7 linked regions of the Homo sapiens genome follow. The protein of the gene in region 1 interacts with the protein of each later gene in a biochemical or structural test. Each region holds a gene or a part of one and is shown in the gene's direction. Other genes may lie near its edges. The genes, in order: SH2D3C, FRMPD1, CARD11, FRMPD3, GRIP2, RAPGEF6 and MPP7.

Region 1 (3,500 bases):
CTCGGAGGCTGAAGCAGGAGAATGTCTTGAACTCGGGAGGCAGGTTCAGCAGTTGCAGTGAGCTGAAATCACGCCACTGCACTGCAGTCTGGGCGACAGAGTGAGACTCCATCTCCGAAAAAAAAAACAAAAAAGAAAAGAAAAAAGACAAAAAAAGAAAAAAAGAAACCAGGCGTTCTAGCCACCAGGGTTCCTAGCTCTGCTCCTGACTCGCTGTGCCCCCTCCCTCATCTGGGCTTCAGTTTTTTTGGTACCTGTCAGTCGGGAGGTTGGATTTGATAATCTCCAAGCCTTCTCTGCCTCTGAAGTTCAAGGTGCAGAGGTGGGGGGTCCCAGAGGCAGGCTGAGGCCCCTGACCTCCGGGCTCCCTGCCCATGATGGTGTCTGCTCCACAGTACGTCGCTGCCCCGCCCTCGGGACTCCATCCGCAGCTGTGCCCTCAGCATGGACCAGATCCCAGACCTGCACTCACCCATGTCGCCCATCTCCGAGAGCCCTAGCTCCCCTGCCTACAGCACTGGTATGGCCAGCAGAGGGGGTGGAGCAGGTGGAGGGAATCTGTTGTTGAAGACTTCTGTCACCTATGTGTGGTTATGTGTGTTTCCGCCTCTTTTATGAGGCGCGACCTTTACCAAGAGAAAGAACTGACACTGGAATCCTGCTAACAGAACTGTTGATATCAACATATAAGATGTATCCATGGTTTGTTTATTTAGCAACTATTTATTTGTTTTTGTGACAGTTTTGCTCTTGTGGGCTGGAGTGCAGTGGTGGGATCTTGGCTCACTGCAACCTCCGCCTCCTGGGTTCAAGCGATTCTCTTGCTTCAGCCTCCCAAGTAGCTGGGATTACAGACCCCTGCCACCACGCCTGGCTAATTTTTGTATTTTTAGTAGAGACGGTGTTTCGTCATGTTGGCCAGAGTGGTCTCGAACTCCTGACCTCAGGTGATCCACCTGCCTTGGCCTCCCACAGTGCTGGGATTACAGGCGTGTGCCACCATGCCTAGCTAATTTTTGTATTTTTAGTAGAGATGGGGTTTCACCATGTTGGCCAGGGTGGTCTCGAACTCCTGACCTCAGGTGATCCACCCGCCTCAGCCTCCCAAAGTGCTGGGATTACAGGCATGAGCCACTGCACCTGGCCTCTATTTTTCTTAATAGACTTTATTTTTTAGAGCAGTTTTAGGTTTGCAGCAAAATTAAGTGGAAAGTACGGAACACTGTGCTTTCTTATAAATACGAAGAAAGTTTCTCTGTTAGAAACATTCCAATAGATCATTTCTGGAAAAAAAATAAAAAGAATGTTTTCAACAGGCCGTATTGTCCACGTGGCAGGCCAAGTGTCACGAGAGGGGGCTGACTCAGGAGGAACTTTCGCCTAGGGTGGCATTCCATTGAAGTGTTGCTGTCTGTATCGGTTGTCACAAATCCTTCCCTAAACACAGAGCCACCAACTTTGTCATAACTACAAACTTGATTTCAAAGCAATACCCTGAGTATAAAACCTAAAATTCCTTGCCAGAATGACTTATTGGACAGTTTCTAAGCAATCTGGTATAGTAAAGCAGCCCAGATGTCAAGACTTAAATCTCAGCTGTACCACTTGCTGGCTGGGTGACCTTGGGCAGGTTAGTGCACCTCTCTGAGCTTCACTTTTCTCATCTGTAGAATGAGGATTATAAAAGTACTTACTTCATAGGACATTGAAAGGATTAAATAGACTGAGGTACAAAGAAGGGTCTTGCAGGCACTAAGAGCTTAGTAAATATCGCCTTTGAGGTTTGATGATGGTTTTACTGTCATTATGTCTCCAGCATGTTGCCAGCTCCTAGCACACAAGGTTTAGCAACAAATCATTATTGCTAATTCAGGCCGGGCATGGTGGGGCACATCTGTAATCCCAGCTACTCAGGAGGCTGAGGCACAAGAATTGCTTGAACCTGGGAGGCGGGGGTTGCAGTGAGCTGAGATCATGCCATTGCACTCCAGCCTAGGCAACAGAGCGAGACTCTGACTCAAAAAAAAGTTAGCCAGGCGTTGTGGCACATGACTGTAATCCCAGCTACTCGGGAGGCTGAGGCTCAAGAATTGAAGAATTGCTTGAACCCAGGAGGTGGAGGTTGCAGTGAGCCTAGATGGCACCACTGCACTCCAGCCTGGGCCACAGAGCGAGACAGTGACTCAAAAAAAAAAAAAAAAAAAAAAAAAAGGAAATCATTATTGCTAATTCGTCGAGAAACAATCACATGTGGCACAAGAAACTCCAGCAGGTACTCAGCTTCCCCGGATCACTGAAGCTCCTCCAAGCAGTGGGTCCCCAAGGCTGCAGCAGCCTCAGGGTGGGGCCATGCAAACTCCTGGGTCCTGGTGATTTCAGAGCATCACCTGGGCTGGTCAGCTTGCCAGAGTCAATCGGCCCTGGTCTCTGGTGATGCAGGGAGGTGGGGACATCACCTCTGTACTCCCTACAAGGAGTGAGGGAGCCTGTTCTTTGGGAAGGGGTGCGGGAATCTCACTTTGGTGGGGAGCTGCTATAACGGGGCCTCTCTCTCTACCTTTCTGCAGTAACCCGTGTCCATGCCGCCCCTGCAGCCCCTTCTGCCACAGCATTGCCTGCCTCCCCTGTCGCCCGCCGTTCCAGTGAGCCCCAGCTGTGTCCCGGAAGTGCCCCAAAGACCCATGGGGAGTCAGACAAGGGCCCCCACACCAGCCCCTCCCACACCCTTGGCAAGGCCTCCCCGTCACCATCACTCAGCAGCTACAGTGACCCGGACTCTGGCCACTACTGCCAGCTCCAGCCTCCCGTGCGTGGCAGCCGAGAGTGGGCAGCGACTGAGACCTCCAGCCAGCAGGCCAGGAGCTATGGGGAGAGGCTAAAGGAACTGTCAGAAAATGGGGCCCCTGAAGGGGACTGGGGCAAGACCTTCACAGTCCCCATCGTGGAAGTCACTTCTTCCTTCAACCCGGCCACCTTCCAGTCACTACTGATCCCCAGGGATAACCGGCCACTGGAGGTGGGCCTTCTGCGCAAGGTCAAGGAGCTGCTGGCAGAAGTGGATGCCCGGACGCTGGCCCGGCATGTCACCAAGGTGGACTGCCTGGTAGGTGCTGGCTGTGCACTGGGGTGGAGGGAGCATCTCTGTTCTGTGGGGCAGGGCAGTGAGAAGCTGGCTCCCAGATTCCCCAAGTACAGCAGGTGGGCCTGGATTCTAGCTCCATGGCTGTCCTTTGCCTGCTCTGTGACTCTGGGCTGGTCATTTAGCCTCACTGGGCCTCCAGTTTCTCCTTTTAAAAAGGCCGGGGGTGGTAGCTCACACCTGAATCCCAGCACTTTGGGAGGCCGAGGCGGGCGGATCACCTGAGGTCAGGAGTTCAAGACCAGCCTGGGCAACATGGCGAAACCCCGTCTCTACTAAAAATACAAAAATTAGCTAGGCGTCGTGGTGGGCGCCTGTAATCCCAGCTACTTGGAAGGCTGAGGCAGGAGAATCACTTGAA
Region 2 (3,990 bases), about 90 Mb from region 1:
CTGCCAGTGCACTGGGAACACGGTGCAAACTCCTTGACCAGGAATTGGCCCCTGCTGACTCCCCTGCTTTATGTCTCAACTCCTGCCACTCCCTCTGTGGGATCTCTCTCATCTTGGGGTCTTTGTTCCTGTGGTCTCAACCTGAAAGGCTCTCTCCACACTCCTCCCTTTCACTGGCCAATTCCACTGGCCTTTCAGGTTTCCATTTAGAGCATGCCCTCTCCAGGAGGCCTTCACTCAGTCAGTGCAGGCCTGAGTGGTGCCCTTGGCCCCGTGGGATTGGGTTATTGTTACAGGAACTGGACTGTATTTTAATAGTCCTAGACTGTACATTCCATGAGGACAGGGACTGCTTTATTAAAGGTGTATTGTATCTCCAGTGTCTAATGCAGGATATGGACCTCGTAGGTGTTCAGTAGAGTTCAGCACGGAAAATAGTGCACAGACACATGCATTTGGGTATCATGCTCAGAGAGGCGGTAGGACCAGAACCAGGGGAGTGGGTGAGACGGCTCAGGGGGTCAGAAAAGGGCTGAGTGCAGAGTCCCAGGGCGCTCCGGCATTTTAGAGCTTCTGGTTTGAGGAACCCTCAAGGAGACCGAGGGAGTGGCTGGAGAGGGCCGAGGAAAGCTAGGAGAACACAGTTTCCCAGCGCGGAAGGAGTTTACAGAGACAGGGGAGGTGGTCCACAGTGCCTACCGTGGGCCCACGCTCTCCCTCTCCCTTCAGCCGAACACCTGCGGGGCGTGGGGGTCAGGGGGCGAGTCCCCCAGGGCTCCCCGTAGCTGGGGCTCTTCCTGGGGAAAAGGAGGCGTGAGAAGGGGGTCGTTTTGGGAACTCTTCTGGGTTCCAGTTCTGGCCCAACCACCGCTGGTCCGGGTGACCTTGGGGAGTCCCTTTCCTCTCCCAGCCTCAGTCTCCCCCCTGGGTACTCAGCGGACGCTGCGTGCCCCGGCGGTGAGCTGAGGCAGGCGGCGGAGGCAGGGCCCGGGTGGGAGCGGGACCGCCCACTGCGGCGGGCCGGGACCTCGGAGCCAGCGGAGGCGGCGCGCGGGGCTCCTCCCCCGGGGCGGGGGTCGCGGCGCCGGCAGCTGGCGGCCGCGCAGCTGCAGCCTCAGCACCTGCCGCCGCCAGACGGCGCGGGCGCGGCCCGGCCCGGCCAACCCCTCCGGCTGCAGCCTCGGCGCGGGAGGCGGAGCCCGAGCCGAGCCCGAGCAGCGCTGCTTCCCGAGCCTTGGCCGCGACCGTGCCCGCCGCTGGGCGGGGCCGCCCTTCTCCGAGAGCGTCAGCCCGCTAGGTCCTTGTCCGCGCGGGCGGCACCTCCTCTGCAGGTAAGGGAGGGGTCCTGGCACCGCAAAGTTTTGGGGAGACGGCCTGTCCCCACACCCCGGGCCTGCGCCTCGGCTTCCTCCGCGCCGCCCTCCGCCTGCACCACCAGTCCCGGGTGACCCGCGCCCGCCTCCGGTCCTCGTGTCCCCAAGCCCGGCTCGGGGGCGCGTCCGTGGGCTAGCTCAGGACCTGCCATCGTGAACTGTTTGCACAGTAGCGATGTGTGCTTAAGTTTCCGAGATCTGCATGGTGTAGTGAGTGGAAACAGCGGCAACGCGGGAGGGGGAGAGACCTGGGTTCAGGTGCGGCCGCGGCCAGCGCCAACTTTCTGAGTGACCTCAGACCAACCCTCTCTGTCCGTCCTCGATGGCCACACCTGAACCAGAAGGGGTTCGCCAGGGACGATCAGCTGCAGTGCCAATGCCTGTGTTGTCATTTTTTGAGTAGAGGGGCATCCCTGAGTGTCTCAGCTCCAGAACTCATTGCGTGTGGAGAGGAATGAGCCACAGAAGTCAGTCTCCAGGGTCGCGTCGCTAACTTGCAGCAGCTTTGACTGAGCTTTAGTGGGGGCGTTGAGTCAGCCTCGGGAAGCAGGGGATGCCCCTAGGGTTAGGAGTCAGGACTCTGGCTTCTGGTGGCTCCTCTGCCATACACCCACTGTCTGTGTGACCTTGGGCAAGTGCCCCCTGCTTTTGCCACCTATAAAATAGGGTGGAAGTCGTGTTCACTAGTTGTTCGCTGTCTCTTTCAGCTGTAAACTCTGGAGAAGCGGAACCTCCGGATCTCTGCATTTAGTCAGTTTGGGTGGAGGCAATATTTCACCAAGAATCCATCTAGCACTTGCAAATGAACGTTTAGAAAATAAAGGAGGCATTTGCAGTTTGCTTTGGAAGTCCCAAAATAGACATGGGGAGGATTGGTGAACGCTCAGTTCGCCTTCTTCAGTGCTTTGGACCGTCATGAAATATTCAACGACATAATGATTTGTTTTCAAAGTGGCTTATAGATCAGGAAGCGTTTCTGTTTGTGAGTCGGTTATTTTTGTAAAAACCTCAGAATGGTTGTTTGGGAAAAAAAAATAATGCACTGTTCTAGGGGTCCTGACCTAGAGGCCAGCATCTACTTGTTTCTAGTCTAAGATGATGGTTGAGATGATTTCCAATCAAGACAATTTCGGGCATCCTTTGGTCGGTGTTGAGTATGGGTACGGTTAAGGAGCCAAGTTCATCTTTTCCAGGACTGGTGCATTCTGGCACAGTCACAGCAAAACAAGCACGAGGTAGTTAACTGTGATATGCTAGAAAGTGAAATTTATTCTTTTGCCCAATATCTTGTTCCCCTTGTGCTGCAATTAGTGGCTCCCCAGTGTGTGGGTGAAACGCATTACCACGAAAGGATTCTCACAGAAGTGATTTTATGATTTTATTTCCTTCCTCGACATCCTGGTTTTAAGTTTCTAGCATTATGAAATCAGAGAGCTGGTGAGGGTGTGCTTGGTGACCAGAGCAGAGTTGTGGTACCTAAGTTTGTCTTTCCTGAATGAGACCCCATCCTTGAAGCTAATTTGTCCAGAGCCTTTTATCTCTCTGACGCATTCAAATGCCACCAGTCTTTTCCCTCTTCATTCTCTATTGGTTCATCAAGCACTTTCTCACTACTCATTCGAGAGGACACAAACATGAAAATTACCAACAGGCCCTACCCTCAAGGAGCTTAGGTTCTGTTGGGGAATAGAGAGGCTTGTGCCACAGGATCTTCATTGTGGGCTTTATCGCCTGGGATTCCTGTGAACACTAAGGAGGGTGAATTCCAAGTGGAGATATTGGAGAAGGCTTTACAATGGAAGGTGGAGGAAGAAGAGGATTTCAACAGGTGGTGAGGAATAGAAAGGCTATGTGTAGGTCAAGGAGCTGGTACGAGCAAGGAACTGGTGAGAGCTGGGAGAGCATGAGACAGATGAGAGCAGTGAGCCTGGTGGAAGCACAGAGAAGGCAGAGCACTTCAGAGACAGGGCAGCGGGAAGAGGCTCTGGAGGCTCTGAACCTGGGCTGGAATCCTCGCTGGCTGTGGAGTATTGGGCCTCCGAGCGTCACTTTTTTAATTCGTAAAACGGGAATAATAATAATTCCAAACTCACAAGATTAAATGAGATCATGTATAACAGTGTCTAATAGGATGTTTGCATGTAATAGGTGTTGGATAAAAGTCAATTCTTTTTATCAGAGGGTTCATGGGCAAGCTGAATAAGTGTTTGAAGGCACCATTGGAGTAAATAGTGCTTTTGGTTTAAGCATGTGCATTGATTTAGAACCTCACCAGCAGCAGAGAGTTCTTGTGACAATGTGATGTGTCCTCGAGGTGCCTCCTGATTCAAGGGGCAGGGGCTTTTTGTTATTTGGAAGGTGTTCAGATCAGATACTAACATCAACAACAGGCAATGCCCTGTAAATACTGTTAGGTGGTGGGAGGTCACAGAAGGCTAATCAGAAGGCTCAATCCCTGCCTCACACAAGCTTATCACTATGTACTCAAGGACCCAGATTGGTGGGGGAGGGGGGCAGATTTGACAGACACAGCTCTAAATATATCAGCTTTGTCCATATAGCTGGGAGCGGGGTACTGGCTCCCTTCTGTCTTAGATTTGCAGTGGTCAAAGAATAG
Region 3 (3,500 bases), on another chromosome or scaffold:
TAAACCAATGAGACATGGGAACTGGCACACTTTTTCTCGAAAGCTCCAAATAGTAAATATTTTAGGCCTTGTGAGCCAGAGGGTCTCTGTCGAAGCTAGCAACTCTGTCCTTGCGGGGTGGAGGCGGCTGCAGTTGGGAGTGAGTATGGCCACCTTCGGCACAGTGGATGGCACAGGACTGGACCCTCAGTGGGAGTGTCCAGACCCCAAAATTAGAGAATTCAACCAATGGAAAAAATGGTGAAAGGGTACAAACACACGGAATATGAGCAGGTCAGTCAGCATGCTTCGTTTGTAATTAAATCCATGTGAAGTAATACAACAGGGACATAGCGTTTTCCACCTGTCAGACTGGCAAACATCAAAAAGTTTGATAGGCCAGGCGTGGCACCTCTCACCTGTGATCCCAACACTTTGGGAAGCCCAGGTGGAAGGATCACTTCAGCCTAGGAGTTCGAGACCAGCCTGGGCAACATAGTGAGATCCCACCTCTACAAAAAAACTTTAAAAAATTAGCCAGGCATGGTGACACACACCTGTAGTAGTCCCAGCTCCTCCAGAGGCTGAGATGGGAGGATCACTTGAGCCCAGGAGTTTGAGGCTGCAGTGAGCTAGGATTGCACTACTGTACTCCAGCCTGGGCAGTAGAACAAGACCCCATCTCTAAAAATAAAATAAAAAAGAAAGGTAAAACTGATTGCCCATCAGTAATAATAATAATAATAATTTTTAAAAATTAAGGTATAACACACACACAGTACAGTCTTAAGCGTACAAACAGCTTGACGGGCCTTCACATGCCCTTCTGGAGCCAATCACCCAGATCAAGATTTGGGTCCTTTCTAGGTTCTGGGGAAGTGCCATATCCCCTCCCAGTCGTTACCCCTCCCCTGTCCCCTAAGGGAGGACCCTTCCAACCTCTATCACCATCCCTGTCCTTGAACTTGACGTGGACGGAGTCACATTCAATGTTTCTTTTTCATTGCTACACAGTATTTCATGGCATAAATTTACCGCAATAGGGGCAGGCGCTGTGTCTCATGCCTGTAATCCCAGCACTTTGGGAGGCCAAGGCAGGCAGATTGCTTTGAGCTCAGGAGTTCAAGACCAGCCTGGGCAACAGGATGTAACCGTCTCTACAAAAATTCAAAAATTAGCCAAGCATTGGTGGCTTGCGCCTATAATCCCAGCTACTCGGGAGGCTGAGGCTGGAGAATTGCTTGAGCCCAAGAAAGCAGAGGTTGCAGTGAGCCAAGATCGCACCACTGCACTCCAGCCTGGGTGACAGAGTGAGACCTGTCTCAAAAAAAAAAAAAAAAAAATTACCACAATTTACTTATCCACCTGACCGTTGATAAATGTTTCTGTTGCTTGCAGTTTGGGGCTGTTATGATGAAACCACTGTGAACATTCTTATACGTGTCTTGGTGGTGATGGCCCTTTAAAAAAAAAAATCTGGAAGCAGCCTGGGCACAGTGGCTCATGTCTATCATCCCAGCACTTTGGGAGGCTGAGGCAGGAGGATGGCTTGAGCCTAGTTGTTTGAGACCAGCCTGGGCAACATAGTAAGACCCCATCTCTACAAAAAATGTAAAAGTTAGCTGGTGTAGTGGTCATGCCTGTGGGCCTAGCTCCTCAGGAGGCTGAGGTGGGAGGATCACTTGAGCTCAGGAGGTAGAGGCTGCAGTGAGCTGTGATTGCACCACTGCACTCCAGCCTGGGCGACAGAAGGAGACCTTGTCTCTGAAATTTAAAAAATCCAAGGAGGGCTGGGCGCGGTGGCTCACGCCTGTAATCCCACCACTTTGGGAGGCCGAGGCAGGCGGATCAAGAGGTCAGGAGATCGAGACCATCCTGGCTAACACGGTGAAACCCTCTCTCTACTAAAAATACAAAAAAATTAGCCAGGCGTGGTGGTGGGCACCTGTAGTCCCAGCTACTCGGGAGGCTGAGGCAGGAGAGTGGCGTGAACCCGGGAGGCGGAGGCTGCAGTGAGCCGAGATCGCGCCGCTGCACTCCAGCCTGGGTGACAGAGTGAGACTCCATCTCAAAAAAAAAAAAAAAAAAAAAAAAAAATCCAAGGGCAAGCAGAGGCCCTGTGCCGGCGTTTTCTGCGGTTTAGTAAATTGCTATGTCAGTGGATAAATGCTGCTGTGAAGTAAAACTGTAACGTTATTGACATTAGTGCTTCGTTGCCTGCCTCTGCGTAAGGATTATGTGATTCGTGGAAATCTTCTAAGAAGAAATGGCCTATTTTTAAAGGGATTCAGGTATCGTTGGTTCCGGGGGAAACGTTCAGCAGAATAATAACGATACCTCACACCGCCTTCCAAGACTCCTGACTTCAATTCTCAGACGCGTTTCAAGAAGCAGCTTGATACCCTGCGGAGAGCCTCTGCGAGCTGACATGGGGGTCCCTGTTTGCCAGTGAACAGGCACCGTGATCCCCGTTTGAGTCCCTGAGGCACGCAGAGGCTCTTGGCTCTTCGTAGGAGAGTTCTCGATCTTTGAAAAATGTTTCTCCTCCTTCTTAAAGGACGGCCTTTTACCGGGCCCTGTTCCGAGTGTTCTGAGCCCGGGGAGGTCTTAGACTGGCGAAGAGCATGACCTAGTGGGGAAAGGACCCAGCTCCGGTACAAGCAGAAGGCCGTCTGTGCGCCGGGGACGGGTCACCGTGTCTCCTCACTCATTTTATGTGGAAGTTTGCTGTAATTTTGTCTTGCTCTGTTGCCCAGGCTGGAGTGCAATGGTGCCATCATAGCTCACTGCAGCCTCAGCCTCCTGGGTTCAAGCAATCCTGTCACCTCAGCCTCCCAAGTAGCTGCGACTACAGGCATGTGACACCATGACCGGCTAATTTTTTTATTTTTTGTAGAGATGAGGGTCTTGCTATGTTGCCCAGGCTGGTCTCGAACTCCTAGACTCAAACTATCCTCCAGCCTCAGCCTCCCAAAGTTCTGGGATTACAGATGTGAGCCACCGTGCCCAGCCCTGTATCTTTCTTAAGTAATTTGTACATATATACATATTATTTTTAAAAAATTATATATGTAATTATATGTATAATTATATATTTATATATAATTGTATATAATATGTATAATTATATTTGTATAATATCTATTTATATAATTTATATATATAATTTAGTAATTATATATATACAGTTCTATTTTCTTTGACACAGAGTCTCACTCTTGTTGCCCAGGCTGGAGTGCAGTAGTGTGATCTCAACTCGCTGCAACCTCCACCTCGCGGGTTCAGGCAATTCTCCTGCCTCAGCCTGCTGAGTAGCTGGAATAACAGGTGTGTGCCACCATGCCCAGCTAATTTTGTATTTTTAGTAGAGATAGGGTTTCACCATGTTGGCCAGGCTGGTCTCGAACCCCTGACCTCAGGGGATCCGCCCGCCTCAGCCTCCCAAAGTGCTAGGATGACAGGCATGAGCCACCGTGCCCAGCTGTAATTTTAAAATATATTTTAAAGATCAACCTTATGTC
Region 4 (3,500 bases), on another chromosome or scaffold:
CTGAGCATGTATCATGTGGAAAGCACTGGACCCTAGGGAGGCACATGTTTTCCATGGAAATGACTAGGCTGGTGTGGTGGCTCATGCCTGTAATCCCAGCGCTTTGGGAGGCCAAAGCAGGAAGATCACTTGAGCCCAGGAGTTTGAGACCAGTCTGGGCAACATAGTGAGACAGCGTCTTTACTTTTAAAAAAATAATTTAAAAAAAATGTAAAAAAAGGAAATGTACCTCTGTACCTCTAATTCATCAGTCCTAGGGTGTGGAATTCTGGGAGACAAAACCCCAGCCCAGGGGAAAGTGGGAGAGTTGGGGGCACAAGACCTGACCTGGAGAATGGGTCACTGGGTGGAATGGTGAGGGATCAGGTTACTGCCTCCACTTTCTAGTGCTCTGAGGGACTCCCACTGTCTGCTTTCCCAAGCCCCGCAGCAGCTTCTTAGCTTTGTAAGATTCAATCTGCCTGTGCTTCCTGCCCTAGAAGCAGGAGAGTGGTGAGACGCACTAGAATCAGCATGCAGATGTACATATGGGACGCAATCGCCCCATACATTCCTCCCATTCCAGATTTCTTGCATTACCAACTAGCTTCTCTTTTAAGATGCAAATTTCCCCGGAGAGTTAAGCCATTCCCACCTTGCTGTGAATATTTAATCAGATTGTTTTCTTCTCAACTGAGAGCATCAGTGCTCACCACCATCTCCTCAGGTAACATTTTTTTCGAGGCACCCCAGTGCTTGGGTTGGAAATATGAAGATGAAGAGGGCCTGGTCTTGGCCCCTGAGTCAGGCACAGTCTAATGGGGAAACACATTAGTCAGTCCCAACACAGTGCATTAGGCACAGGTGCTCTGGAAGCACAGAGGAAGAACACTAAGCCCAGCCTGAGGGAGGTGGAAAAGGCCAGAGCTGGGTCTTGAAAGACAGATAAGAGTTTGTCTAGATTAATCCGTGGGCATGGGTCATGGGAGGAAGTGTTTCCCAGGCAGAGAGATCCATCTGTACAAAGGCCCAGAGATATGAGAAACCATGGTGCAAGGACAGAAATGCAAATCATTCAGCCTAAGCAAGTACAGAAAATGCAAGCTGTGTGCAAGGGGTGAAGATAGGGGCAAGAGAAGAGGCCAGAGAGGTTGGCAGGAGCCAGTTCATGGAGGGCCTTGTGTGCCAAGGAAAGAGGTTGTACTTCATCCTCTAGGCAGCTGGGAGCCATTGAAGGGTTTAAAGCAGGGAGCTGATGTGATTAAACTTATGTTTTAGGATGCTCCCTCTAACAGTGTGGAGGCACTTGAGGGAAAGAGGGAAACAAGTGTCAGTCCTGAAGGTAACCTGGCTGTCACCCTGACACAGGTGGGAATGTCAAGGCAATGACTGGCTAGAGAAGAGGGATGGATAGATTGGAAAAGGAGCTAGGGGGTAAGTATCCAGATGATCTGGTAACTGCTGGCTCTCACATGAGGCGATTAAGGAGGAGTCCAGTGTGACTCACAGGTTTCTGGCTTGATTGCCCAGGGGATGCTGATATAGACCAGGAATGCCTGAAGTGCAGGCTTGGGACTTAGGAATGCTTAGTATGAACGGTATTGAGTGGGACCCCCAGCTGGGGAATGACCAGCATGTACATGACTCTAGGGGTCTGAAACATCTCAGGAGAGAGGTATGGATTAGGTGGGGCGTCAGTTAGTTGGAATTAAACCAAAAACAAAATGAGTAAGCTGGATACTTTAGGAATGAAGATCAGGAGGTAGGACAAGATTTTAGAAAGGGAGATGAGATACTAGAGGGAAGAGCTGTCCAAACTAGAACCTTGCTGCTGTTTTAAGAAGGGCATCTTCACATCTCCACAGTGTCACTTGCTGACTGGTGCCTGTCCTAGGATGTTGAGACTCCTCGTTGAGAACATGGGTTTGCTTTTCCTGTGCCCCTCAGGCTTCTCATATTTCTGGATGGGTTTTTCCACAGGGCTCTGCAATTCAGGCAAAGCTCCAGTATCTACGAATTCTGAATGAACTTCCTACCTTCACGGGCGTTTTGTTCAACACTGTAGGCCTGGTCAGTGGCGCAGGATTGGGGGATGTGGGGAGGGAGCCCCTTGTTGGCTCTTGTCCTTGGGTGTGGGGGCAGGAGGGGCAAATATTTCTAAAGGCCTTCGTTCCTCTTCCTCCTCCTTCTACCTCTTACCTCCCTGGCCCTGCCTCTGCCAAAATGATAAAGTGGGAGGAGATATTTGTTTTGAGTATCCCTCCATGACCTTTTTTTGTTCCTCTTCCTCGATTTGGGGGCGCAGCATACTTTTTCCATAAAGGGCCAGATAGTAAATATTTTAGGTTTTGCAGGCGGGCCATACTGGCAACTGTGGCAACTACTCAGCCCTGCTGTCAGATTATGAAAGCAGCCACAGACAATGCATAAACAAATGGGTGTGGCTGTTTACCAATAATTATTTATGGATACGAAAATTTGAATTTCATGTACTTTTCACATGTCACAAAACATGCCTCTTCTGATTTTTTTTCCCTACCATTAAAAAATCTAAAAACCATTCTTAGCTCCTGGGCCATAAAAAATAGGTGGTGGGTGGTATTTGGCCCATGGGCCATGGTTAGGCAACCCCTGCTCTATTTCATTTTTGTTCCACATACTCCCACAGTCCCCTACCCTAGGTTTCCTGAGTCCTTCTACTTCTCCCCCTGCTTGCTCAGCACCTTTGCTGCAGGAACAAGGCTCTGGGGCAGGGCACAGCTGGTCCCACCCTAAGACTGTGCCCCAGGCTAGTTTACCCTGGTGAAAGGAAATTCAAATCACCTTGCTAATTGGATCCAGGTGCTTGTCTTGCTCCCAGGAGCACATTGTCAGCTAGTGCGGCACATCGGTGGAAAGCCACTTATCAAAGTGCCTATAGACAGGCACAAGAGGTTCCTCAGGGTGATGCTAATACCAGGGAATGGGCCTCCAGACGACCCAAGCTTGATTGCTCCAAGGAATCTGTCAAGACCTCTTAAGGGAATCCAGTCCTTCAGGCCGAGAGGTAGCCATTTACATACTGGGATTTGCAGAACACTGAAAGCCCACTGTCCCCTCCCACCTCCTTCATACACTGTCAAATCTTTCTTCCACCCACCTACCACTGCTAAAATTTCTATTGGCCATACCTGCTGGAGTGCCCATTAAAAGGCAAATCTCTGCTTAACGAGGGAGGCTGCCATGAAGTACCCAATCAACCCTCAACACCTTAGGCAGAGTTACTGTGCCAGTTTAGTTTTTGGCCTGGGTGAGAAGTGCAAGTTTGAGTGGCTGTTGGTGGGGGGAGGGTAAAGACCAGACACAGGATGCCGCCTTCTCAGGCAGAGCACTGGGTGGGGGCCTCAAATGGCCTGCAGCAACAAATGGAAAGCCCCTGGGGCTTGGAAGGGGAGGGTGCTCCAAAGGCCCCCAAACAAACCTCACCTACTTCACGGTTTTGCTTGAGCTAGCCCTTCTGCCTGTGCACTTTACTCAACCTG
Region 5 (3,500 bases), on another chromosome or scaffold:
AGGGCTAGAATGAGGGAGGGAACAGTCCTGTGCTCTCTGCTACTCAGAGCTTAGATCCTGGGCTCTTCTCAGTGACTCTCAGCAGATCCAGAGGAGGCAGCTGGGAAGTTAGAGAGGGCCTGGAGTTTCTCCTTTGAAGAGTCAGGGTCTCCCAGCTATGAGCAGGGAGCTGGGTGCTGGGCATTTCCAAGAGCAGAGGAAGTGGGTGGTCTGGGGGTCCAGAGGGCACAGTTGGGGCCAGGGGCAGGGTGGGGGGTGGCCACAGAGGGGCAGCTTTCAGCTCAGGGCAGGAAAGCACGTCCAGCAGCCCAAACCTTGGGCCTTGAGTGAAAGTCCCATCTTTGCTCCCAGCAGCTGGACAAGTGCTTTTCCCTCTCTGAGTCCCAGTCATCTCATCTGTAAAAAGGAGGGAGGACTTCTAATGCACAGACATGGGGGAGGCTGACGGAGATAAAGGACAAGGCACAGCCCAGGCCTATAAATCCTAGCCCTAAGGGCAGAGCTGGAGGGTGAGGAAGGAGTCTGTCCACCCCACCCTTTGCAAACCCCATCTTCTGGAAGAGAACGGAATCCCCCACATCTGATTGGGAGGACAGTTCTTGGGGAGAGTCCATCTCTATGGTCTCTGCCAGCTTCTGAAAAAGCCACACTGAATGAACCACAGTCCAGGGACTGGTCTGGGTGACATTAGGGCTTGAAACAGCGTCATTCATTCTCGTACCATTTATCGAGCATCTGCCACGTGCCAGGTTCGGTGCCGCGGCCTGCACGCCTCATTACTTCCTCATGACACCTCTCTGAGCTTAGTCTTACTGTCCTCCCACTTTACAGGGAAAGCTGAGGTAGCGTTGCAAGGCTACACATCTGCGTACAACCCCTTGGCTCTCATTAACTGAGCTTCTACTAAGTGCCAGGCACTGCTCTAAGCATGTTATATTATTAACTCATTCTAACCCTCCCCATTACCCGAGGAGGTGGCCACTCTCTTGGTCCCATTTTACAGATAATAGCACTGAGGCACAGATAGGCGAAGTGACTCCTCCAGGTCCCGCAGTTGGTCAGGGACAGAGCTGGGATTTGACCCAGGCAACTGGCTCCAGAGTGGGCCAAGCCCTGGGGAGGGGGGCTGTGGAGATGTGGCTCAAGGAGACAGAATCAACGGGCTGAGACAGTTGAGTCCTCACCTGTCCATCCGCGCAAGAGGAGAGCTGGCCTGGGGCGGTCTGGGAAGAGGTGTTGTATGGTGGCCAGTTTGGAGGATCAGATGGAGGAAGCAGGGTCTCCTAGGGGGTCGGGGCAGTGGGGGTTCCCTGGGAACTTGGAACAGGAGTGCAAAGAATTCACTGTGGATAAGGCTGGGAAGGGTTGCAGCCTGGGAAGGGGGAGCAGCCTCAGCCCGTGGTGCACTTCAGCCTTGGCCAACCCAGCAGGAAGCCCTGGAGCAAAGGCTGTCCTGGAGAGTCGTGGGGCAGAAATAGCCAGGCCCTAGTGCCCCGGTGCTCAGCCACTGGCCGAGGCTGCCTGGGCTGCAGAGCCACTGCATATCCCCAAAGTGCTGCAGCTGGACACCGTCTGCCAGCTGCACTCCTCACCAATTCTTTCTTGGAGAAACTTCATGGCAGCACTCATAGCCATAGACCTCTCCGGCTCCAGGGCAGGATGCCTGTGTTCAAATCCCTGCTCCACAACCTCCCAGCAGTGGGCCTCGGCCTGGCTTCCTTTCTCTCTCCTGTCCCTGCCTCTCAGGCTGCCATGTGGCAGCAGCTGCACTCTGAACACAGTGCCCGGCACATTGTAGGCGTCCGGGACATGTGAGCAGAATACTAAATGCCTTGCCTGGCTCAGGGGAAGCACGAGGATCTTCTGGTTCTTGCTTTCCTGGCTTCATAGTGCCCTCAGCCACTAACGCCTGCACCTCTCTTTCCTCTTTCTCCGCTGGCTACAGTGAAAGTGCAGAGGAGTGAGCAGCTGCACCGCTGGGACCCCTGCGTGCCCTCCTGCCACAGCCCCCGGCCCGGCCACTGCAGGATGCCCACCTGGGCCACACCTGCTGGCCAGGACCAAAGCCGATGTAATGTGCCTGCCCTGCTGTAGCTCAGCCAGTCTTGTAGCCTTTCCTAGGGAGGGGGCGATGCCTGTTGTCTAAGGGAAGGAAACTCAGACTCAGAGATTAGTGAGCTGGGTGTGGTGGTGCACGCCTGTGGTCCCAGCCACTCGGGAGGCTGAGGCGGGAGGATCGCTTCAGCCTGGGAGGTTGAGGCTGCAGTGAGTCAAGATCACACCGCCGCACTTCAGCCTGGGTGACAGAGCGAGACCTCAACTAAAAAAAAAAAAAAAAAAAAAAAAAAGAGAGAGAGATTAGGTGGCCTGCCTCATTGTCATCTAGCATGCCAGTGGCAAGATTGGCCCCGTCCCTAATAGCTGAGTTTCACAGGGTCTATGGAAACCCTGCAGTCTTTGAGACCCAGAGAGGAAAGGGACTTGCCTGAGGTCACACAATGAGTAACTGATGTGAAGGGGGAAGGCATCCCCATCTCTCCCTGTGGTTGGGTGGCTTCCCAGCACCCACTGTGTGGTGGGGTGGAGAGCCTCGGCTGGGGTTCACGGGGCTGTGCTCTCATCTCCCCAGCCTTGTCTTCAACTCCCTTTTCCTCGCCGACCTTGAACCACGCCTTTTCCTGCAACAACCCCAGCACCCTTCCCCGTGGATCCCAGCCCATGAGTCCTCGAACTACAATGGGGCGGAGGAGGCAGCGAAGAAGGGAACACAAGAGCTCGTGTAAGCTGTGGTCTCTTCCCTCCTCCTTGGGCTGCTTGTATGTCTGAGAGTGAGGCTTGCCAAAGGGTGTATGTCAGGGCGAGGGGAGGTATTTTGGGCAGAGCTCCAGGTGTATGCGTGGGAATGTTAAATAACATGAGTGGAACACCAGGCTGTCATGGATGGTTGGGCAGGTTGTGCACTGCTCAAGAGGACCACTGAGAGGTGCCAGTTACTTTGTACACTTTTATTCTTGTATTTTTATTATGAAAAATTCCTAGGATTTGGTGATAACGTCCTTGAGGAAAGGAAGTCTTTTCAGATGTGCATGAAGTTTTCACATTTTTTGCCATTCAGTCCTGATTCATTCATGGATAAAGCCTCAGTGCTGCGTTACTATATCCTTACCACCTCTCTGCCATTTGTTAATTTCCCCTAAGACAAAGACATGGCCTGAGACTCTAGCTGTCCAGAATGTAATAATTTCCAGTCTTACTTCTCTGCTTATTTATTGTTCAAAATTGCCCTTTTGAAATAAAGATATTTACATGTTAAGAAAAGTAAATCAATAGAAGACAAAAGTAGTGAATGATAAGGCAGGAGCCCTGTGGAAGTGGCAAAACACAATAATGCCTAAAATTTTGAAACCCTTCTTGGGAACAGTCTTTCCTTTGTTGATGCAGAAAGGGTTCTCAGCCTCCTGCCACATGAGCTGCAGAGGCCTCCAGGAAGGATAGAAGAT
Region 6 (3,500 bases), on another chromosome or scaffold:
CTTAAAGTCACCAGCTGCATTATCCTCTAACAGGAGTCAGCCTGTCCTTTGAAGCTTTGAAGCCAGGCATTGATTTCTCCTCTCTAGTTATGGAAGTCTTAGGTGGCATCTTCTTCTGATATAAGGCTGTTTTGTCTACATTAAAAATCTGATTTTTAGTGTAGCCACCTTCATTAATTATCTTAGCTAGATCTTCAGGATAACTTACTTTTTATGTTAGTGGAGGTGGCTTTTTTTCGTAAACTTCATGAACCAACTTCCACCAGCTTCAAACTTTTCTTCTGCAGCCATCTCATCTCTCAACCTTTTTAGAATTGAAAAGTTAGGGCCTTGCTGTGGATTAGGTTTTGGCTTAAGGGACTGTTGTGGCTGGTTTGATGGTTTATCTAGACCACTCAAACTTTCTCCATATCAGCAATAAGACTTTTTCACTTTTTTTTTTTAAATCATTTTTTTGTTCACTAAAGTAGCACTTTTAATTTTCTCCATGTGCCTTTTCTTTGCATTCACAACATGGCTAACTGTGTGGTGCAAGAGGCCTGGCTTTGGGCCGTTGTTAGCCTTCCTAAGTTTAATCATTTCTAGCTTTTGATTTAAAGTGAGAGATAGGTGACTCTTTTCACTTGAACACTTAGGGGCCATTGTAGGGTTATTAATTGGCCTAATTTCCGTATTGTTATGTCTCAGGGAATAGGGAGGCCCCAAGAGAGGGAGATAGAGAAGGTGGAACAGCCAGTGGAACAGTTGGAACACATACATCAGTTACGTTTGCCATCTTACATGGGCACAGTTTGTGGTGCCCCAAAACAATTACAGTAGTAACATGAAAGATTGCTGATCACAGGCCACCATAGCAAATATAATGAAAAAGTTTGAAATGTTGTGAGAATTACCAAAATGTGACACGGAGACATGAAGTGAGCATGTGCTGTTGAAAAAAATGGTGCTGTTGGACTTGCTTGATGCAGGGTTGTCATGAACCTTCAATTTGTATTTAAAAAAAAAGAAAACAACCCCACAATACCAGCCAAGCACAATAAAACAGAGTATGCCTGTACTTCTTTGCGTCATTATGCCAGAATTCCTTAAAGAAGCCACAGTCATAATTAGACCTTGAACTTGGCTGTTTCTCAGCTCAATCCACATTTAATACCATTCTTTATAACGTTCCTTTTTTTACTTCAGAATGAACTCCTTATATTTCCCTTAATGTTTATTTCCCTCTCAGTGCTTAATGCCATGATTTGCACATATTAAATGATGAATAAATATTTTACAAGCCAAAATTTGGAAATACATTTTGTAAAGTCATCATATGTTAAAAAGGTAGCACTTCGTATTCATTGGAACTGCTAACTTTTTGTTTCTTGGACAGTCTTACTCAGCAGCTTGGTTTCAGTTAGTTGTTATAGGCTAATGCCTCCTAGGATTATGTTTTCCAACTTATCCCCTAAATTTTATGTGCTTCAGCTTCATATATCAACCATCTTGTCCTCCAGGTTCTTCAACCACTTGTCCTAAATTGAGCCATCATTATTCCTCTTCCTTCATAATCTGTTGGCAGCTGGCCGAGTTGCTGTCTCTAGGAATTTGTATTATTTCTCTTCATTCCTCATAGATGCAACTTGCCACTAAACTTTGTCCCCTGAATCTTTTTATTTGCCCTTTTCTTACAAGTTTTACTACTCTAATTCAGTCTGTTTTATTGTTTCTACCCCCAAATTATTGCTTGAGTCATTGAGTCTTGCTGCTAGAGTGATCTTCCTCTCAGATCTGATTATGTTCTACTCTTGCTCAGAATTTTATTTCCTATATTTCCTAGGTATAGATTAACAATATGTTGTTCAAATCATTTTTGTGAATTAAAAGAGAAGCTGTTAATATTTATTTCAGAGTAACAGGTTAAAGAGGGACTGTCCCGCTTAAACTGAGATATGGTTACCTCACCCAGATGATAACATTAATTTGTACATTCATTTAAGAAATAATATATCTGATATATTAAAAACCAAGGTTGTAGAGAGGAGTTAGACATGGTCCCTATTCATCAATGACTTGGGAGACATAAGAAAACATAAATGTAATAAATGTTTTAGTTATTAGTGACAAAGGTATGAGTAGGGCTTTGGGATTGCAAGATGGGGAAGGGAACAAGCTTCATGGGGGAGCATTGAATTCCCAGTGTTAAATGTCATGAATTGATTTCTGGATGATCAAGAGAGGTCATTCCAAGCAGAGAGGCAGGAGCAAAAGTACTGATGATGGCAAGCCATGTATACTTGTAGAATAAGAAGCCAATCTGTAAGTCTAGAGCAGGCATTCCCGTTGGAAGTGATATCGCTCCCAAAGATGCAAAAATTGCCTTTTATGGGAGTGGGAAAAAAAATCACAGCTATTGGTATGGTTTGTGGCCCTCTAAAACTCAGCCCTAAACTGACAGTGTCTTATTCTTTAGTATTTAATTAGAGATGGGGCAGTGCTTACGAAAAATTGTCTGAAAGGTTCTTTGGGAGGGGATGAAAATGAAAAAAAGGTTGCAGAACACTGGGGCTAATGTCTAGGATGTTTGGGGATGATGGTACATGATGTGAGATGTTTAATGATGAAGCTGGACGTACTAGCAGGGTTTGGATAATTTCAGAAATTTGGACTCCATCTTATAAATAAAGGAGAAAGAACCGTTGCAGGGTTTAAAGCCTGGAAATAAGATCAGTTTTATAAAGACTACTATGTGAGCATTTTGGAGATGTAATTGAGTGGGGAGGAGCAGACTAGAGACAGGGAGGCTTATAGGTATACAGGTAGACTGGACATGTATTTTATCCAAACTGGGATATTTTCCATGTGAAAGGTAAGACTACTAGTGATTATACTAAGATAATATGGAAACCAAGAAGTATGGTTTTTTTTTTTTTTTTGAGACGGAGTCTCTGTCACCCAGGCTGGAGCGCAGTGGCGCTATCTCGGCTGACTGCAAGCTCCACCTCCCGGGTTCACACAATTCTCTTGTCTCAGCCTCCCGAGTAGCTGGGACTACTGCCGCTCGCCACCATGCCTGGCTAATTTTTTTGTATTTTTAGTAGAGACGGGGTTTCACCATGTTAGCCAGGATGGTCTCGATCTCCCGACCTCGTGATCCACCCACCTCGGCCTCCCAAAATGCTGGGATTACAGGTGTGAGCCACCGTGCCCAGCCACCAAGAAGTATGTTTTGTTGTTAGAAACAAATACAGTAGTTCAGGTGTGAGATAAGGTCCTGGACCCAGTGGTGGCAGCAGTTAAGTGGGATAGTGAGGTATTAAGGAGGTAGAATTGGCCCAACCTGGTCACTGGTTGGAAAGATAATTTCTCCTCCTCCCCCAGACTTTTTTGAAAAACTTTGAAATGAACTATAAAACATAAAGTCCATATGCCCTAAATATACATTGGCAGATGATTAATTTGTTTTGTTTGTTTGTTTGTTTTTTGAGACGGAGTTTCTCTCTTGTCTCCCAGGCTGG
Region 7 (3,500 bases), on another chromosome or scaffold:
TCTGAGATAACAAAAACTTGTGGGTGCTGGTACTTATTTTAATGAAGTTAGAATAGATACTCAGTCTTTTCATCTTTCAATTAATCTATTACGTTGGATATTTTACTCGCTCACCAGAATACAATAGATATGAATGTTCTTTATTTTTTTTTTCTGATGGGCATTGCCACTAATTGAATCATGTATTTGTAACTGCACTACTGACATTATAGGTGTTTTGTCCCCCAAAACATGGATGCTGATACTTAAATGTAACTGTATGAACCTTGTACATTATTCTTTAAAAAAAAAAAAAAAAGCTTCTTGCTCTGTCACCTAGGCTGGAGTGCAGTGGTGCGATCACAGCTCACCGCAGCCTTGAACTCCTGGGCTCAAGAGGCCTTAGCTTCATCACCACGCTTGGCTAATTTTTAAAATTTTTTTTGTAGAGACAGGGGTTTTGCTATATTGCTGGTCTTGAACTCCTGGGCTTGGGTGATCCTGCCACCTTGCCTCCCAAAACACTGGAATTACAGACACGAGCCACTGCACCCAGACCTTTATACATTATCTGTTCTAGTCATTGAATACTGTGTTTATTTAAGGTGTTGTGCATATTTTGTGTGTTTCTATTTCGAAGAAACTTGGATGGGAATGTATTTACTTGACAGCTTAAAAGTACACAGGAAGTAAAAGTGGATTTAGGAGTTAATGTTTTTTAACTTATTCTACAAACTTCAGAGCTTTCTTTCTCACATTACAGGAATTTCTACAAAAATAGTTTCCTCCGTTTAGTCTATCTAAGAGTAGAAGCCCCAAGCTTGTAAATTTTCAGATGCATTTCACTTTCTACCTATTTTACCTTATTCTTCCTTGGGTCTGGTTTTCTTATAACTCCTTGTTTTATCTGTTACCAGGCTCAGTCTCAGGGAGCAATTACATTTAAGATTATACCCGGCAGCAAAGAGGAGACACCATCAAAAGAAGGCAAGGTAATTATTGCTTAAAAACATTTCTTCGTGCGTGGGAGGGAAGTCATGTTTTTCCATCCAACACATATCCACTTTGTCACAACACATTTCTTTCAATATTCCAGTTTTAAAATTACTATGTTTGGAGTCGGAGTTAGGAGAATATAGGCCATTTCACATTTATTTTTTATCTTTATTCATCTTTAATGAAACTTTTCTTCCAGATGTTTATCAAAGCCCTCTTTGACTATAATCCTAATGAGGATAAGGCAATTCCATGTAAGGAAGCTGGGCTTTCTTTCAAAAAGGGAGATATTCTTCAGATTATGAGCCAAGATGATGCAACTTGGTGGCAAGCGAAACACGAAGCTGATGCCAACCCCAGGGCAGGCTTGATCCCCTCAAAGCATTTCCAGGAAAGGTGAGCTGCTGGTACATAATAATGGCTTTTCTCCAGCTGACCTTTTGTTCTCTGCAAAATATCATTCTGGCATTGATGTGATAAAATATGCTATAAAACCTTGCCTTAGAATTTTTTATCCTGTGGGTTTGGATTTCTGTTTTGTCTAACTAAGTATGATGAATGACCAAAAATAATATGACAGTACTGGGTCATATTAGATTTTTGTTATGAAGCAAATGGAAAATAGCACATTAATATCTTGAAACCATGTTGATATGAAAGGTGGAAAAAAAAAAGACCAGTGGTTTTGGAGGGAGGGAAGATAATTTACAAAAATTTGAAAGTGGGCGATTTGTTTCTTAATTTGAATCTATTGCATTACATTCATTTTTTTCTCTAACCTTTAAGTTTTTTCTTAAGACTAAATATTTTGATATTGTATTCACCTCGGACCTGTGCTGAAAATTGATAGGTATGTTGACCTTCTTTCTCCCAGGAGATTGGCTTTGAGACGACCAGAAATATTGGTTCAGCCCCTGAAAGTTTCCAACAGGAAATCATGTAAGTTTGTTAATAAGAATGCAGAGAAACCAAACCCTGATGTTTATTTTTGACTATTAAAGCAGGTGCTCATGGCAGAACAAAGGGTCCTATTACCCTAGCAATAACTTTGGGATCATCAGTTCTCAGGAACAAACAAATATGAGATTCATATTTGGAATATTAACATGAATCTTTTGAGGAAAGGGGTGGTTGAGGTTGTTAATAATAAATCCATGACTCACTCTTTAAGAAAGTGACTACTACTACTACTGTCTTTGATTTCCAAATATAGTTATTTTATTAAATGTCACCTAAAATACAGCTCTTCCTTCTTCAAAGCCAGGAAGTTTGGGTTAGGTATTTCTTGGTAAAGATTAGGGAGAAAAAAAATCTACCATTTTCTTGGGTACAAAAGCAATTGTGCTCAAGACCAATTGTTCTTAATTCCTTTCTTATCCCCAGATCATAATACTTCTGACCTTTAGCCTATCCCTTTGGAGTTATTACCAGACTAGATTAAAAGAAAATGAGAGAAAGACAAAGGATGGCTACCGTATGACTACTGAAAAACTTAGTGTGCATTTAAATACTTTTTTTTCTCTTTCAGCCTAATCTTCTGTCAGCTTTTCTTTATTTCCCACCACCCAGCTCTTCAAGTCTGCATCCCATAAATTCCCTGTTCCACCTCGCCTAGATGTTTCATGGTTCTAGGTATTTTAAGAGGAAAAAACCAACCCTTTGTTTTTAGCATAGAAACTGTACATTAAACAGCGAAATGACCAAATAAATGGCCCTGGAATTTTACACCAACATCTGTTTTTAGTATTGTTGCATTTTTCACATCTCCTGTGATTTCTGTCAGTTTGCAGAAGCATATAGCCCAGGAATCACATTAGAAGGGAGCCAAACTGTAGTCGAGTATAAATCTCACAAGCAGGCAAATGCTTAAAGTGGAGCACTCATTCAAAAGCCTGCTTGTCCTTGCTACATTAAGTCTAGGCACAAGGAAAAAAACCCTTGTCACAGAATGCTACAAGTCTTCTGACATCAGAAAACTTAAAGCTTTCGTGAGAATATTGCACTGTTCTTAAGCGTGATGACTTTTCACTGGCCAACTCACTAACAGAAAGGAGCTTTGAGGCTCCTTGCCTGACTGGCTCTCAAAGGGATTTTTAAATAGGAGGCTTACACATTTCTAATATATTTGGCATATGTGGGATAAGATAATGTGTCACTTAAAGATGAAATAAATGTAATTATACTCGAATCTGGATCCATACTCAACTCTTTTTCAGTCCTAGGCAACTTAGAAATGTACAGTTTGATATTATTATAAATTTTCATTGATTGAAAATTTTTGATAAGTGTATATGTATTTCTTTAAAAGAACTATACAAAAGGGATATTTTGCTTTTTAATAGCTCTTTCAAACTGGTTTCTATATAGATGCATAGGAAGGTGAGGTGTGTGTGGGGGTATGTGTGTTTGTTTGTGTGTGTATGTAGAAGTATTAATTGTAACGGAGTCCTTTTGTATGTTGATTTGCATGATTTCTTTTTTATGTTAATACTTCAATATTTGGATCTGATAAATATTTATTCTAG

The links.
Region 2: the proteins of SH2D3C (region 1) and FRMPD1 interact in a test that uses a peptide from one of them, tested with the Homo sapiens proteins (one large-scale study listed by IntAct).
Region 3: the proteins of SH2D3C (region 1) and CARD11 interact in a test that uses a peptide from one of them, tested with the Homo sapiens proteins (one large-scale study listed by IntAct).
Region 4: the proteins of SH2D3C (region 1) and FRMPD3 interact in a test that uses a peptide from one of them, tested with the Homo sapiens proteins (one large-scale study listed by IntAct).
Region 5: the proteins of SH2D3C (region 1) and GRIP2 interact in a test that uses a peptide from one of them, tested with the Homo sapiens proteins (one large-scale study listed by IntAct).
Region 6: the proteins of SH2D3C (region 1) and RAPGEF6 interact in a test that uses a peptide from one of them, tested with the Homo sapiens proteins (one large-scale study listed by IntAct).
Region 7: the proteins of SH2D3C (region 1) and MPP7 interact in a test that uses a peptide from one of them, tested with the Homo sapiens proteins (one large-scale study listed by IntAct).

Annotation. Positions count from the first base shown.
Region 1 is NC_000009.12:127,744,167-127,747,666, reverse strand, and holds part of SH2D3C (SH2 domain-containing protein 3C), read left to right. Parts: intron 1-395; coding exon 396-520; intron 521-2,567; coding exon 2,568-3,103; intron 3,104-3,500. UniProt on the Homo sapiens protein: Acts as an adapter protein that mediates cell signaling pathways involved in cellular functions such as cell adhesion and migration, tissue organization, and the regulation of the immune response.
Region 2 is NC_000009.12:37,649,764-37,653,753, forward strand, and holds the start of FRMPD1 (FERM and PDZ domain-containing protein 1), read left to right. Parts: upstream 1-1,190; 5' UTR 1,191-1,331; intron 1,332-3,990. UniProt on the Homo sapiens protein: Stabilizes membrane-bound GPSM1, and thereby promotes its interaction with GNAI1.
Region 3 is NC_000007.14:3,033,868-3,037,367, reverse strand, and holds part of CARD11 (caspase recruitment domain-containing protein 11), read left to right. Parts: intron 1-3,500. UniProt on the Homo sapiens protein: Adapter protein that plays a key role in adaptive immune response by transducing the activation of NF-kappa-B downstream of T-cell receptor (TCR) and B-cell receptor (BCR) engagement.
Region 4 is NC_000023.11:107,561,152-107,564,651, forward strand, and holds part of FRMPD3 (FERM and PDZ domain-containing protein 3), read left to right. Parts: intron 1-1,959; coding exon 1,960-2,049; intron 2,050-3,500.
Region 5 is NC_000003.12:14,516,343-14,519,842, reverse strand, and holds part of GRIP2 (glutamate receptor-interacting protein 2), read left to right. Parts: intron 1-1,945; coding exon 1,946-2,071; intron 2,072-2,629; coding exon 2,630-2,779; intron 2,780-3,500.
Region 6 is NC_000005.10:131,625,230-131,628,729, reverse strand, and holds part of RAPGEF6 (rap guanine nucleotide exchange factor 6), read left to right. Parts: intron 1-3,500. UniProt on the Homo sapiens protein: Guanine nucleotide exchange factor (GEF) for Rap1A, Rap2A and M-Ras GTPases. Does not interact with cAMP.
Region 7 is NC_000010.11:28,118,065-28,121,564, reverse strand, and holds part of MPP7 (MAGUK p55 subfamily member 7), read left to right. Parts: intron 1-896; coding exon 897-971; intron 972-1,174; coding exon 1,175-1,371; intron 1,372-1,849; coding exon 1,850-1,914; intron 1,915-2,503; coding exon of another isoform or gene 2,504-2,508; exon of another isoform or gene 2,509-2,706; intron 2,707-3,500. UniProt on the Homo sapiens protein: Acts as an important adapter that promotes epithelial cell polarity and tight junction formation via its interaction with DLG1. Involved in the assembly of protein complexes at sites of cell-cell contact.